Linked DNA regions of Homo sapiens: regions 1, 2 and 4 are each linked to region 3. The links come from fine-mapping of genetic effects on gene expression. A gene starts in region 3. Each other region holds a variant in brackets. All regions are shown on one strand. Distances are between the middles of the regions. Region 1 has its middle 32 kb from the start of DOCK9-DT. Region 2 overlaps DOCK9 (dedicator of cytokinesis 9). Region 3 holds the start of DOCK9 (dedicator of cytokinesis 9). Region 4 has its middle 27 kb from the start of DOCK9.

The links. PIP is the estimated chance that this variant, and not a neighbour inherited with it, causes the effect.
Region 1: its variant is the best candidate, but not a certain one, in a credible set for the expression of DOCK9 in whole blood (INTERVAL, PIP 0.78).
Region 2: its variant is the best candidate, but not a certain one, in a credible set for the expression of DOCK9 in sun-exposed skin (GTEx, PIP 0.59).
Region 4: its variant is the best candidate, but not a certain one, in a credible set for the expression of DOCK9 in fibroblasts (GTEx, PIP 0.74).

Annotation. Positions count from the first base shown.
Region 1 is chr13:99,052,299-99,056,298 of GRCh38, forward strand. It overlaps a transcript of DOCK9 not described here. Among named protein-coding and RNA genes, the nearest start is that of DOCK9-DT, 32 kb to the right of the region's middle. The variant G/A (reference allele first, on the strand shown) is at 1,524.
Region 2 is chr13:98,940,844-98,944,843 of GRCh38, forward strand. The region is part of intron 2 of DOCK9 (dedicator of cytokinesis 9); the gene reads right to left. Among named protein-coding and RNA genes, the nearest start is that of DOCK9, 35 kb to the right of the region's middle. The variant T/C (reference allele first, on the strand shown) is at 1,593.
Region 3 is chr13:98,975,653-98,979,652 of GRCh38, forward strand. It overlaps DOCK9 (dedicator of cytokinesis 9), which reads right to left and starts at 2,412. Exons shown (of 53, transcript NM_001366683.2): 1 at 2,132-2,412. The coding sequence starts at 2,257.
Region 4 is chr13:99,003,076-99,007,075 of GRCh38, forward strand. It overlaps a transcript of DOCK9 not described here. Among named protein-coding and RNA genes, the nearest start is that of DOCK9, 27 kb to the left of the region's middle. The variant G/T (reference allele first, on the strand shown) is at 2,365.

The DNA.
Region 1 (4,000 bases), 77 kb after region 3:
TGCCTGGCCATGGAGTAGGATGGAAGGATCTCCTGGTAAACAAATGCCAGCACACAGCTTACTTCTCCCTGACCTCAGCTCCCCATCTCCCTAGATTCCACAAAATATTCTGCTATCCTAAATGATTTCAAAGTACAGACCACACTCCGTATCCAAGGGTTCCATGGTGTGAGGTGGTATCTCACTGTGGTTTTAATTTGCATTTCCCTGATGATTATTGATGTTGAGCATTTTTCCATATACCTGTTGGCCACTTGTATGTCTTCTTTTGAAAAATGGCTATTGCCCTTTTTTTTGGGGAGGTTTGTGGGGGTAGACACAGGGTCTCACTGTGTCACCCAGGCTGGAGAGCAACGCAGTGGTGCAATCATGGTTCACTGCAGCCTCGAACTCCTGGGCTCAAGTGGTCCTCCTACGTCAGACTCCTAAGTAACTGGGACTATAGACACATGCCACCACACCAGCCTTCTTTTTTTTTTTTTTTAAGTAGAGACCAGGGTCTCACTATGTTGCCCAGGCTCTTTGCCCATTTTTTAACTGAGTTGTTTTCTCACTTTGAGTTGAGTTTTTTATATGTTTTGGATATTAATCCCTTATCAGATGTACAATTTGCAAATATATCCTCCCATTCCATTGGCTGTCTCTCCACTCTATTGATGCTAATGAATTTCTAATGGTAGGTTTTTCAGGCCTCAGTAGGGATTCGCCGTTGGGATGAAGTCTCTCCCATTACTCCTTCAGTCAAACCACTTCCAGTTCCCAATTTCTTGGTTGTCTCCAGGAGCCCAGTTCCTAAACACACCTGAAAATAAAATAGATTACCACTAACATCACTCCTGCGCCCTCTCCCAGCTGCCACTGTGTTCACATCCCTACTGTCCTTTTCTATTGAAATCAGATAAGAATTATGTCCACAGTAACTTAAGCCACAGAGATTTCAAGAGCTTTGTTAAATGACAAAATTTCCTAAGCCTATACAAATTTGCAGGAGAGCAAAGAAGATAAATTTTGTCACTCTTGTTCAGAATTCTAAGCTACTATAAATAATTTCCCATGCAAATCACGTTTTGTGGCAGAAGGAAAAAACCAGCAACCTTAATACATATTTCTAAAATAGCTCATTATGCTTCTAAGAAAAAAACTTAGAATATAAATTTAATTATTCAAATTCAATATAATTTAATTAAATGTAATTGAATTAAATTGCTTTCTAAGGTATTCTTTCTGTAAGCCACTTGAACCAAGAAAGCCACCTGGTTTTATTTAAAGCCAATGGTAAGAACTTTCTGAGACAAGGAGAAACCTCTGTAACTCAGACCCTTGTACAAAAGAATTAAAGAAATTAAAACCGGGAACCAGGTTTCAGTAACTGCAGGAGGGTTCTCCTTCCTGCCAGGGCCTGGAGTGAGGATCAGTTACTGTAACCAAGAAACCTCAGACTGTTACCTGGTCCCCAGCGATAGCACAACATGTGGCCTGGGCCCATCAGATAGCACACACTTGAGGGTTATTACAAGAGGAGC[G/A]AAGCACCCCACACCCTCCACCTCCCCTCACTCACCCTCCTACTCCCAAGAAAACACCAGGAGGTTTTGGAAGCAGGGTTAATCTTGCATTGAAAAAAAAACACAAAGCAGATGGGGCTGAGTTAGTCTGACTACCACATCTCAAAGAAGATTATCTGCCTAACACGGTAAGCAAGAAAGGGGAGTCATGAAGAAGTCAAAAGCCAAAACCAGGGGTGAATTTCTGCATAGATCATTTTTCACTGTCTTCCTTTTCCACTGTAAGACACTGCAATTCTTTGCCGCATCTCAAAAGAGGAGACTCTTCTGGTGGCTCACTCTAAAATCTAGTTCATGGGGATTACTCAGGCATATTTATAAACCCAATGGCTGCAAAATTACAAATATTAGTGCTCTCACTTAGAAAAAAAACAGCCTTGGTCTAGAGTAATTAAAACATAAAAACATTACTCTCCATGCTCTGAGACCCTTAATGGGGTAATTTGTGGCCTCGCCAAAAATTTGAAAGGTGGGCTTCCATGGCCCACTATAACCTAGAGCTCTAGACCAACATAGCCTCACCCAGAATCTTTGTACATCCTAACAACCAGACACTGACACTGAGCTCACAACAGCAGAAATAATAGCAATGGTAATAAAGCAGGTTTTACAGAATAGCTGAGAAAGCCACACAAGTCCACATAAAGCAGTTAAGTCCCTAACTGTGATAAATCTAAAAACTTGGTTTGCTGTTAGTTGTTGGTTGGACAGGGTTTGAGGGCAAGCAAGAGGGAAGGCATAAGCCCAGAATCACATCTAAGTTCTTCCATTGCTACTGCCCTGCCTCAAGCATAAAGCACAATAGTCTGATGAAACCTGCTCCTCTTTTTACCTTTGCCATGTTAAGTTCTCTCTCCTAAGCTGGGAGATTCTTAACTACGCCAGTATCACCAGCAAATCAAGCACTATCACAAGCACCATCAGGCTGAAGTTAAGGGATGAGGCTGAACCTTATACCACCTTCCATCTGTGCTTGCCTTTACTACGAGAAAAATTTTAAATGAATATCCCACAGAGAAGACAAAAAAGATGGCACCTCAGTTTTAAAGTGCCTTCTTCACTTACTTTCCTAACTTAGGAGAGGTTTTCAGTCATCCATTTCACAAACCAAAGAGCTAAATCAGTCATGAATTGCTAATAGTAGAAATGAAGCAGGGAAAGAATTGCCTCATCCACTTTTTTTGCACAAAGGTTCTGCTATGAAATTTTCTTGAATGAACATATGAATGAATGGCCCATTACTCTACTACTATGGATTAGCAAAAAATAATAATTTGAAACAACCGGGGTATCTAGTTAAAGGGTACACCAGGACTTCCTTATACTATCCTTGACTTTTCATATAAGTCTGAAATTAAATAAAAGTTCCAAAAAACAGAATGGGAAGAAAATAACTTGCCCTCTGTGTAGGGTAGGGTCCCATTGGAGATTAGCACTAAAGGAACTTTCTACAAACTTTCAAAAACAAAATCTGTGTCCCCATGCGGTAGCAGGAAAAGAGGACTCCCTGTGAGAAATGAGAAAGGAAGAGGCGATTCTGTGTGAACAGGAAGTGGGAACGTCTGCGTTGGCTGGGCAGCCTCCAGTGCGGGGAAGGGGGCATCGCACCTAAGAGAAAGCGAGCCGGTGCTTAACTGTGGAGGGGACCGCAATGGGAGAAATTAGAAGAGAGGAGCAGCCAGGCGCACAGGGTCAGTTGTGCAGGGCAGAGCAGGAAGAGAGGCATATGGAATGTGGATTGGGATTTTAATGGAAAACTATATGCAGTTCTTTGTGGCCTAAGCTGTATTACTCAATTACATTGATAATATTGACTACATTGATATTATTAATAAGTTATACTATTACCATAATATTGCACACAGTTGTCAACTGTTCTCTAGGTTCCTAACAGCTGTGCCTAATAAGCCTGTACAGCCTTTCTCCAGCCTTAAATGAAGACAGACACTAGATACAGGCTAAGACAGCTTTTAACATATACTAGCTGTCTGCAGTGACTAGACCCAGGATCTGAGGCCTATGATAAATTCCTAGGCCAAAGAATCTGGGATTTTTTTCAGAAATCAGCCAAGCTTTCCAAAAGCACTGTCAGGACCAAATATCAGCTGCACTAAGCATCACAGGGACGTGGAATGGTAACAACAAAAGTGCCTTTGTAGCTGAATGAAACAGAACCTGGTCTGGTTACTGTATTCTATACCAAAGCCTTTGAAGATGACAAATTTAAATTCCACAAGGTCTTTCCAGTTTAGTGAACATAGAGAGTTTCCCTGGAAATATATATTTTTTTCCTGTAAACGGAGTGCCAAATGTTTTGATCATTTTTAGAATATATATGTAAAAAATACTTTTGAAAGTGCAATTGTGAGATGTTTCACCATACAAACTAATAACAGGCAATTCAGCTTCCCTGGCTATCCAATCATTGCTTGTTTGAC
Region 2 (4,000 bases), 35 kb before region 3:
TCCATCATCCCTCTTATCTATTCTCTGCACACCTGCCATTTGTCTTTCTAAATCTCTCATCTGATAGCATCATGCCTCAGCTGAAATTCTTTCAGTGACGCCTCATTGCCACCAGAATAAAATCCAAACTCCTCAGCATGACCGAAGACCTTTTGTGACCAACCGTACTAACTTTTCTGGACTCTTCTGCCCTTCTCCAACAGTCCAGCAACATGGACTATTTCTGATTCCCTAATGCACCAGGCCCCTCTGACTGACACCAAGTTGCTCAGACTGGTCTCAGGAACACGTACCATTCTGCTAAGATTACTCAAAGATACTTCTGTGTCTCCTGCCTGACTTGAGAATCTGACCATGTTATTCATCTTTAATTCTCCAATACCCAGCAGAACACCTGGCACAAGATGAATGTTGCTGAGTAAATGGGAAGTTGGGACTTTAAAAGAGGGACTGCGCAATTTAGTTGTGAGATCACATGAGGTTCCAAATGAGACAGCGTCTCAGCAACACGTGAGACTTTAGACAGTTCCTTTCACCAAATAATGTACTGCTTCCTGAAAAGTCAGATTTCAGTAGACTTTGAGAGTCATATGAATTTCATTCTGCCACCTTCTCAAATCCCTTAAATGGAAGAGCACACGATTGTTTATTAAAATGCAGTAAACTAAATAACATAAATGTTCAGAACCCTTAATAACTAGTTATGAATTAAGTGCATTTTTGTAAAGAATTATATATTTTTTTGGTCTTACAAAGAAGCAATTTTAAAATCACTTGCTAAGTACTACTGCACAGCTGAGGACAGGAGAGTTACCCAGAAAACCAGGAGTAGCCTTGTGGTCATTTGGGGCCCACGTGGTATGTCTGCCTTCCCATTTAGTAAGGGATTGAGCCTGCTGAACAACTAAAGTTGAGGATGGCAACTAAAAACAGCCTCCTCAAAAATAAAATGACATTCCCTAGAGGCGAGAATAGAGGCTGTAATAAGCTCCCTAGTAACCTGGCGTCTGCCAAGCAATGGAAGGGCAGTAGCAAGGGCGTGCAGAGCTCTCCTGGATGGTAGTTATCTCTTTGGATTCTCAAACATCTGTGAGAACCAAATTTTAGGGGAAATATCATCACTGAATTACAGATTAAGAAAAGTGAGTTTTAGGAAGGTTTATCACTTATGAAAGGATCAGAGTAATAAGAGACAGACCTGAGTTAAAACCCCTGTGGACATACGACTAAATCTTGGGTCCTGTCACTACCTCTAGTGTCTAAAGCACCTACCAACTCTTTCATGTGCATTGCACTCAACCTTGAGGTAGGTGTAAGTAAGTGTACTTTCTTTACTTTCTTTTGTTTTCCAGTTGTCTGTATGTGTCTCTGGTTATGTTTTTTTTTTTGTTGTTTTTTTTTTTTGTTTTTTTGAGACAGAGTCTCGCTCTGTCCCCCTAGGCTGGAGTACAGTGGCGCGATCTTGGCTCACTGCAAGATCCGCCTCCCAGGTTCACGCCATTCTCCTGCCTCAGCCTCCCGAGTAGCTGGGACTACAGGCACCCGCCACCACGCCCGGCTAATTTTTTGTATTTTAAGTAGAGATGGGGTTT[T/C]GCCGTGTTAGCCAGGATGGTCTCGATCTCCTGACCTCGTGATCTGCCCACCTCGGCCTCCCAAAGTTCTGGGATTACAGGCGTGAGCCACCGCGCCCAGCTGGTTGTCTTTCTTTAGAATTCTATTTTAGTTGCTAAAAGGACCATAATTCTGTGTGAACATCTAGCACAGTGGATATGCTTCAAGTTAAAACATGTCCATCACAGTTACGTGTTGCATAACGCTAGAGATACATTCTGAGAAATGCATCATTGGGTGACTTTGTCCTTGTGCAGACTTGATAAAGTGTACTTACACAAACCTAGATGGTATAGCCTACCACACACCTAGGCTATAGGGTGTAGCCTATTGCTCCTAGGCCACATACCTGTACAACATGGGACTGTGCTGACTACTGTAGGGAGACGTAACACAATGGAAGTATGTGTGTACCTACACATATCTACACACGGAAAAGGTATGGTAAAATACAGCATTATAATTTGATGGGACCACCACTGTTGACTGAAAGGTCATTATGCAGTGCATGACTGTATTTATACATCTCGATACACCAGTGAACTTTCCTTCGGGACTTGTCTTAGGAAGACATACTCCCTACTGTGCCACCCATCATCCATATGTAAGGTTTCACTTATGCACTGAGTATAATTTCACTCAAATCCCTCTGAGTTGACCAGCGCCACACTGCTCCTGTCAGAGCAGCATTTCAGCTCCTGGGCTGCCATCCAGAGCCTTACTTCAAACACAGCGGAGAGTCAGCTTTGTAGATATAATGCTAAGCAGATGGGGAAGGCACTGTGACTCAAGACTTCTGACATCAGGGGACTTTGATAAACTTACTGAATCTGTCCTCTTTGGATCTCATGCACACACTCAAGGGTGTTGCTCAAACCCATGTGGGACACACTCAATATTATCTAGGTTCTTCTAGGCAACCCTGGTAGAAAAAGGCAGAGATACAGACATAGCTGGACTTGTTTTTGTTTTAGGAACCATAGAGATTTTGTGCCTGGTCATACGTTAAATGACATCTAGGAATTCTAAGGCCAAAACCTGGATTTCCATTTCCTTTAAGGACTCTTCGTTTGTGTGTGTTCGTTTTTGCATGCAAATTTACTGTCTACTTTACTTCTACTCCCATGATTTGCCACCTTGAGATATGCTCTAATGACCTCAAAGGCCACTGGTGCCAAGATCTCATATCCATTCATTTGTGTAATACCTATTAAGTGTCTACTATGGATAAAATACTATTGTAGGAATGTTGGCAAATGTAAACATGAATTTTCAAAAAACTATGGTTTACAATTTAAAAAAAAATTACAGCTTTCTAGTCTCATGGAGGCTTTATTTTCTATTTAGGGGAAAAAAAGCAGTTTCATAGTTACAAATAATCATAATAAAGAGGGATAGGGGATGAATGCTAGAGACACAGTATATACTTCATAAATTTCCATCTGATTAAGCTACCCCTGACGGAAGATATCATCCTTAGTTCAAATCTTCCTCTATCCATGCCTGTTGATTACCTTTAATATCCTAAGACATATACACTAATCACATAGATAAAATTGTCCTTCTATGCCTCATTGGTTTGCAAATATGGTCTGCATTTATCCAATTCCACCAATTGTAGAATTTTACCATTCTCTCTGACATATTTAAAATGTCAGCTAAATGTTATTTTAAAAAGAAAAGAAGAATGTGACCTCTCATGGGGAACACAAACATACAATGATGGACTACTGGGTTCATCAATATCCTTCATTCAGGATAAGAGAATAACATCTTACATTTACTTGATGTATACAGGTGGTATTTCATACGTGTGTGCTCTCTTTCTTCTAGTTACATGTGTAGTTAATGTCAACTACCCACTTAATCCTAGGTTTTCCTGAGCACAATATGGAGCAAAAATCACGTCACAGTGTCCACTATATGAGAAAAAAAAAAAAAAAAAAAGCTACTACCCTCAGCAGGCTGAGGAAAAAAAAAATAAAGAAAATGATGAAATACTTTGTAAGCATAAAAATCAACACACTGATCTTGTACCCTAACTGTTTCAGCAGGAGGCATCATGGTTCCGCTGAGTTCTCTGGCTCCTGAGGGCACCATTACACTGTGTTCCATGTGTGTGTCCTGCTCCCGCATAACATGTTCAATCACATCCCCTACAGTCCTATGCCAGGGCACATGGGGACACAGCTGCCCACACACCCTCCCCTGCCTGTAACAGTTCATGGGGATGCAGAGGGATACCCTGGGAACAGCGAGGAAGGCGGGAGAACCCTTTGAGGTGCCAATCAGCTGAACCTCACTTAAGGACAGCGGGGTCATGACCAGATCATCCTCCTAGCCTATCAGGCCTCCACCTTCATTTAGAAAGGCTGGCACAAATACAAAG
Region 3 (4,000 bases):
ACTACACGCATTAATTAATTTTATCCGTTTTAATTTATGTAATATTTTTCCCCAAGGACTGTTTCTGTACATAACTAAAAACAGCAAAACTTTATTTCAAAATGCTACCTCCTGAATAAAGCATGTTACCTACATTTAAACGTCTCTAGGTATAATGCATTCAAATGATAGACAGTCTTGGGGATTCTTACCAAGCCCGTGGGCCACTGACATTCGAACAATGAATAGTACTGCCACAAACAGGTTGCACAATGGTGTCTGCCTCCTTCTGAAAAATCATCTTGAGAAACAAGTTGCCTTTCCAGCAGTCTGTTGAACTCTTGTTTGCCAGTGGGCAGCAACAGCCACAGGTAAGAGATCTGCCCTCGGCAAAGGCCCTGCTGAAATATCCTTGCTTCCCTGATCTGACATTAGCTCTTCTTATCTTGTTTACCCTGCTGGAAGAAGAGAAACACTGCCCGATAAGAAAAAACTTCTGGTATCACTGTTGGCTTCCTCACTCCCTCACCCCTCTCTGCAGGTGCGCAGAGCTGAGATCACACTGCCACAAGCTGCTGGGCCCTGACAAGTGTTCCCACCAAATGCAGCTGTAGCCAGCACAGCTTTATCCATTGCAGTGGAAAAAGACCCCCAGAGGAACTGCCTGGAGTGAGATTTACCTAAACAAATAGCTAGGACATAAATGGCAAATTTCTTGAGCACTAGAAAGAGAAGTAAGTTTAAGAAGTCACTTGTGTGCTTAAAAAAAAAAAATTGCATAGCATCTTTCTACAGTGTATTCAGTCCTGTAGACAAATATTTCTACACAGCTGGAGAATCACTGACAGAAGATTTTTAAGAATATTCACAAGGGAACCTAAACCACACAACTTCCTCCAAGAAATCCTAAGTTACATCAGCTGCTTTAAGCAGTGAAATCCATACAGCCTGTGAGCAACCCAACAGAGAAGTGGGCTATTATATTGGCAGCAAGGAATCCAGAACAATGAATTACATTTCTAAACAATGTAGCAGAGGGTGAAGAAAAGAAACCTAAATCTCTAAGATGAAAATCTGCAGTGAAAAAGACCATGATATTTTACTAACTTTTCAGTTCAGGGTTAGCAATATAGTTTTGAAGGCAATAAAATATAGGGCAGTCTCACGAGTCACAAAGAAAGCAACTCAGTTCAAATCAAATCTGTTATAGGAAAGTTTAAGTTCAGATTCTTAGACATTAATTGAAAATTAAGTAAATTAGTAAGCAAACACTTCATGGTAACATCAACTGAACCTCCACGTTAAAGAAAAAAAAAAATCACTAAATAAAATCACTACATATCAGTTTAACAATCTCTTTAGCAGATAATTTGAAAGGCTCAATTGTCCCCCCTCTGCAGGGCATGTTGGTGGTTTTGTGCAGCTTGCTTAAAAAATTATGTGCCTTTATTGTACTGAAGAAATTCCGAGAGAAGCACAACCTACTCACTGATGATAACAACACAACCATTTTTCACATTCCTCCCCTCCAAAGTCCACCAAAGCACTTGGCTTTAGACAAATGCTGAGAGTTTAGCTGATGTTAAGAACAGAAACGTTTCTATCAGCTGGTTCACAGTTTAGGTTCTTCCCTACTTTATTCAAGGCAAACCTCCTGGTAAAATGAGTGAGAAGAACATATGTGATTTTATCCTTTCTAAACTATGTAATATTTCCAACAGTTATGTTCCTTAAAACCCCCAATGGGACCTGCCTCATTTTCTCAATAGCATAAATAACGTAGAAAAGGTTTTAATTTTGCAAAGCACATCTTTTTTCAACCCTATAGTTGCAATTAAAATATGCTTCCTGGGTTTACATTTGCAAACACTGCAGCTAGGTGGGACATAATTGTGAACAATACATAATTGTCCCATACAAAGAAACCTCCCAGAAACCATATTCACCCACAAAATGTCAACATTTCTTTCTTCACAAAGAAGAATCAAAGGGGAATCGAAGTCATATTACAGGGAAAGAGTGGAGTTCACAAGGGACAAGCAGAGCAAGTTTTGAAATCAAAGACAGGCAACAGGCGTCAACCCCGTCCACACGCACAATAAGAACCCAGCATTGGGTAGACACAGCAACACTTTGTACGAGACCCTCTTACCGGCACAGGGCCCGGGCTCTCTGCTTCCACTTCGCCCTGAGCTGCATCCTTGTATTGCAGGGGGGACTCAATCACCAGTTCCTTTTTGACACTTCTACTACTTGTCCTGCATTTATCAGCCTGCATTCTCGGCTGAAAACGCAAGTCAGAAAGTCTGCAACTGGAACAGCTGCGAGTCCCTGGCCGTGCAAGGCACAGGCATGCCAGTGGTCCAAGGAAGGAAAGGAAACTGGCTTCCCAGGCACAAGTGGTCAGCCCCGCTGGCTGGGTCTGCAGAGCCTGTGGGGTGGGAAGGCATGACAGCAAAGGCCAGCCTCCAGGGGTGTTACTACTCCATGCAAAAGGGGAGGCTCCTACTTGCTGGCCAAAGGAAAACAAACTCCAAGCTGAACAATACACAGTGTACTGCCTCTCTGATAAAGACCGGCTTTATTGTGTCTGTTCCACACAGCGTGGGCCAAATCAATCGGAATCAAAATACTGCAGTGTTTAAAAGAAAACCAGTCACAGTTAGACTCCTTCATAATTACCTTAAATCTGAAGCTCGTGGAGCTTAAGAGACAGCAAGGTTGTCTGCTTGTTCTAAAATTCTTCCAGTTTTGGAATGCTTTCATTTGTGTTATGGTTAAAAACCAAATGCCTGGCTGATGATTAAAGCAGGGAAGAGCTACCAGCAAGTATGTTCCCATAGCCTGCACCTCGTGGATACAGGTGGAGGAAATGAGTTTCACCCCGCATGACAGACCACAGCATGAAACACTTAATTTATGTACTATTTGATGCCAGAAAGATGAGGTCATCAAAACATTTTCATGGGATACCACATATCATAGTAAATGCATTTATTAAACAGAATATTACTTTAAGTCCAGATGTGTGGGTATCAGAAGGTACCCCCAGTACTAGGTGCTGAGAGGATCATACTAAAAGTATAAGGTAGAGTATCTCTCCCTTCAAAGAACTTCACATCTAGCTGGGAAGGCAAGAAGAGCAGACATCATAAATGACAAATTAATAAAATTAAGAGAGAGATGCACAAAAGCACGGGAAAATAGCTGGATCACCAACCTACGGTTCAATGGTGGTTTAGTAGCACCCAAAATATGTGTTCCTAAAAGTCTGTATTTTTATTATTTCCTCACATTTAACAGTGGAGTCTTTTTTACCTCTTGGGAAAAATTAAAACAGAGGTATTAAGGGATTTGTCTAAAAGTTATGTAGAAATGAACATTAAAGGGGGGATCAAATATTACTCTGTACTTCATGGATACCGCAGAGCTTTTCCTAGTTACTCTGAGTATTTCCTGGACATCAGGGAAGATTTAGTAACAGTAGACAACAAGCAGCAGCAGCAGCAGCAGCCGTAGCAGTAGCAGTAACAGCAGTAGCAGCAGCAATAGTAGTAGTAGTAGTAGTAGTAGTAGTAGTAGTAGTAGTAGTAGTAGTAGCAGCAGCGGCGGCAGCAGCAGCAGCAGTATTCAGTCAGTCAACAACGAGAGTAGTTATCATGTAGCAACAATAGGTGCCAGAGGAACTCTACCCAGGGAAATAACATAAACTATTATACAAGTCACAGGTAAAAGTCTCCCACTTTCCAGACAAAGGAACGCAGCCAGGAGGGCTCAGAGGAGGCAGTGGGGAGAACTGAGATGCCACCCAGTCCTCGCACAGCCGCCTCCCTCTCCTAGCACCTGCTGCAGCTGCTCTACTTCAAGAGTGAAGCTGAAGCTGGGTCTCTGCCACTTGAACACCAGGAACCCTTCTGAGTGTGAATATCAATTATGTAACGATCTCAAAGGATCAATGAGTCCATCAAATAAATTAATGGCTTCTATAATTTTTTTTAAACTACCCAATCTCTCAACCTTG
Region 4 (4,000 bases), 27 kb after region 3:
CCCCAGTCTACTACACAAGCCCCTTCCAGGCCAAGGGGATACCTTGAAATTCTGTTGTGCCTAAAAGGATGGTGTGCACATAACATATTTTGTTAAATGTTCCTGCGGACAGTAAAGATGATGGTGTTGGTGAACTAGAGGCAAGAGGCTTAAACAAACACACTCAGACAGAGGTCTTCAAGCCGTTGGCATTTATTTCTTTAGCTAAGATTCTGTTTCCAGATGCACAGCAGGCTCTCCCCATCCCTGAGCACTCAGCTCCAGGCTCCTTTCCCAGCTCCTTCTCCTGTCCCTTCCAGGGCCCTTGGCTCTTTGCCTTCTGAATACGCTCACCAGGAGATCTCATCCCCTTCCATCCTTCATTACCAGACATCTGTCTGTGCTGGGATCCACACTCTAGCTATGGTCCTACTAGTCGCATCCCACTGGTTTACATGTTGTGATGCGCTAAACCTCAAACTCAAGATGTCTGGAACTGAAATCCTCCTTTCCCAATTCTTCCTGATCCATTCCTTCAGTGCTCCCACCTCAGCAGGTGGCACCCTGGAGGTGCCCAGGGCACAAATACCAACACTCTTGACTCCTTGTCTCTTATTTAACTGCCAAATCTCTCATTTAACACTCTCTTAAATCTTCTATCTCCTCCACCACCTGCTTCAGGCCACCATCACCTGTGACCCCCCAATGACCTCCTCACTAGTGTTCCTGTCTTGAGACCTCTCCTTTCTCTAAGCCGTTATCCACCCTGCAGGATAAGTACAGTATGAGATTCATTAAAAACATGAACATGTTTCTTTAAAACCTTCACTAAATGGCTTCCCTCTAATACAGGAATAAAGTTCCAACAAGACCCACCATGATATGTCCCCTGCTTACCTCTCCAGCCTCACTGGTCACCCTTCTACTCCCACCATTGTCCTACAGCCTGATAAGCCCCCTCCAGCACTGTGGAATTACTAGCAGTTCCAAGGAGCCCTCAGCTCTCCCTCCTTGGGACTTTGCTCCCTCTGCAGAAACGTCCCTCTCCTTCTCCTTCACCTGGTTAAATCCTTCTACAAGGAGCCCTGCGTAGGTGCTTGTGGTACCTGTGCTTACCCCCATCATGGCCCATATCCCACGTGGCAGCCTTATGGGCCCTCTGAGAGCAGAGATTATGACTCTTTCATATCATACCACCCTGTAATTGGCAAACATCCAATGGATGTCTGAGAACTGAAGAAAATATGGGAGGTTGGGGGAGAACAAGGAAAAGACCTCAGGATTCTCTTCCAGTTGTTCTTCAACAATAAAGAAAGCACAAGGAAATAATAAGTTACAAGACTGAGTCTTTGATAATGTTGTTACCTGTTTCTTAAGCCTAGAAAATATACAGGAAATACCAAACATCCATAAAACTATTTAGCATACAGGACTGCATCTGAGAATCCCATAAACAGTCTCACTCCACAGACTCTGCAAAGGCAGAACCTACTCAAGAAGCAGAGAAAACACCTATCATCGGCAATTGGCTCCAAGTGGTCCCTCTGCTTCTGTTCACAAGTCATTTCTACTTTGAGTCTCCTAGGATATGTGTTTTTCCTTGGCAGAGAAACAAATGCTGATTGAAACGTATCCTAGGATGAGGTCATTCATTGTTCATTGACATTTGAAAAATAGTAAAGTACACCTTTATTCAATATTCTAGTACTGCATTGACCAAAAAACTATAGACACACACACACACACACACACACACACACACACACAGTCACATGTACTTCACACACACATATTCATATCCAAACCTTCGTATACACTATAAAATCTAGTTAAGGAGGGAAATTAATTATCCTTAGAATTTGTATAATGTATAAAAGGAAAACCAGAATGTACTCTTCATCTATAAATGTACAGATATATTTCCTGCAGACATGAATAGACTTTGTTTGGAAACTCTGCTAGCACCTTTGCTTATATTTTGCTGGGACTTCTTTTGTTAGCAAAGACCGGATATACCAAAAAAAAAAAAAGAGTAGATTCAAATCAAGGTTACTTGAGGATGCAGCTGCCACGCTGGAATTTTTCTTTCATCAAAATGCCCCAGAGAGTCCACATAAAGACAAGCTTGATCTATTTTATGAACAGGCTATTTACTGAGGAAACAAACCTACAAATATAATTAACTGCTCACTTAAACCTTAACCCTTAGCTCCTGAATCTTAACCAATATGTCTCATAAGATCACTTAATTCAGCAACTTACGCAGTACAGTCTGTTTATTCTATCTTTAAATTATAGAATTTATGTCTCTCCCCAAATTTCTTGTTTTCATTTTTCCTGAATTGCAATTAAACTGACAGCTGTATAAGAACCTTGCTTTTGCAG[G/T]GCACAGAGAACACTAAAGAAAAAAATGGGGAGTAGGGGAAAAAGGAAAAGGCCTTAGGGTTTTCTTCCAATTGTTGCAAAGCCTAGTATATAAAAGAACATAAAATATAATAAAGGCAGTATCACAAACCACTGAGTAAGGAATGGATTATTCAACATGGGACTGGGAAAAATGGGTAGGAAATTGAATTAGGATCTTAACTAAACTATAAATCCAAATAAATTCTAAATCTACTAAAGCAGGGCACAGCAAACTTTTTGCAAAGGGCCAGCTAGTAAATATTTTAGGTCAGCTGATAATATTTATCAGGTGACTTTATCAGCTGACTTAAATAAGTGTCTGTCCTAATGACTCAACTCTAGCACCATTAAAGCAGGCCTGGACAATATAAAAAAACAAATGTGGCTATGTGGCAATAAAACTTTATTTACAAAAACAGACAGCAGGCCAGATTTGCCCCATAGACTTAGTCTGCTAACCCTGAGGGGAAAAGACAAATAGTAAATAAACAAACAAATTCCAAAAGAAAATACTGGTGAATATCTGATCTCAGATAGGCAAGAATTTCTAAGCATAAAGGTAATGGAAGAAACCACAGAGGAAAAGATGGTTATGTATACCATTTACATTCAAACCTCAGTTAGTAAAATAAGTACCATAAAGAAATTAAACAAAATCAAAAGGCAAATGACAAAACAGAGAAACACGTGATGAAGATAACGAAGGATTTAGAGTTTGAAAGGTGTTATCTTTTGTTTCTCAAACTGGCAAAAATGATGCTAGCCAGGATCATATATAAAAAAAGCACTAATAGTCCCTGCTGCTAGGAGTGTAACTTGGATCAGTCATCACACAATAAAACAATATGCCTTAATAGGCCTTTAAAAAATTCATTCTTCGCAAGTTCACTTTTATAAATCTAGCCTACAAAAATAACTATAGATCCACACAGATTTTTGGGTAAAGATGTCTTCTGTAATCTCGATTTATAACAACCTAAATACTGAACAACAGAGAAGTATTTAAATAAATTCCCGTACATATATTACAATGGAATACTATACATATGTTAAATCATGTTTTAGCAGAACTTTATGGGCATAAGAAAATGCTCATAATAAAATACAGTAAGTGAAAAATGCATCAGAAATTTTTATGGACAATTATCCCTTTTTTAATATTTGCAGAAGCAGAGAAAAATATCAGAAAACACATACCACAAATTAAGCAGTTTTGGTTTCTGGGCTGTGAGTTATGGGTAATTTTTGTTTTCCTCTTATTCTTCTTTGTGGTCTCTAAATTTTCTACAGTACTTATGTATTCTAAATATAAAAGACAACAAATGTTACTTTTAAAAAGCAAAAAGCATGGTGGGGTGTGGTGGCTCACACCTGTAATCCCAGCACTTTGGGAGGCCAAAGTGGGTGAATTACTTGAGTTCAGGAGTTCCAGACCAACCTGACAACAAGGTGAAAACCCGTCTCTATAAGAAATACAAAAAGTTAGCTAGGCATGGTGGTGCTTGTCTGTAGTCCCAATTACTCAGGAGGCTTAGGTGGCAGGATGGTTTGAGCCCAGGAGGCAGAGGCTTTAGTGAGCCAAGATTGCACCACTGTACTCCAGCCTGGGTGACAG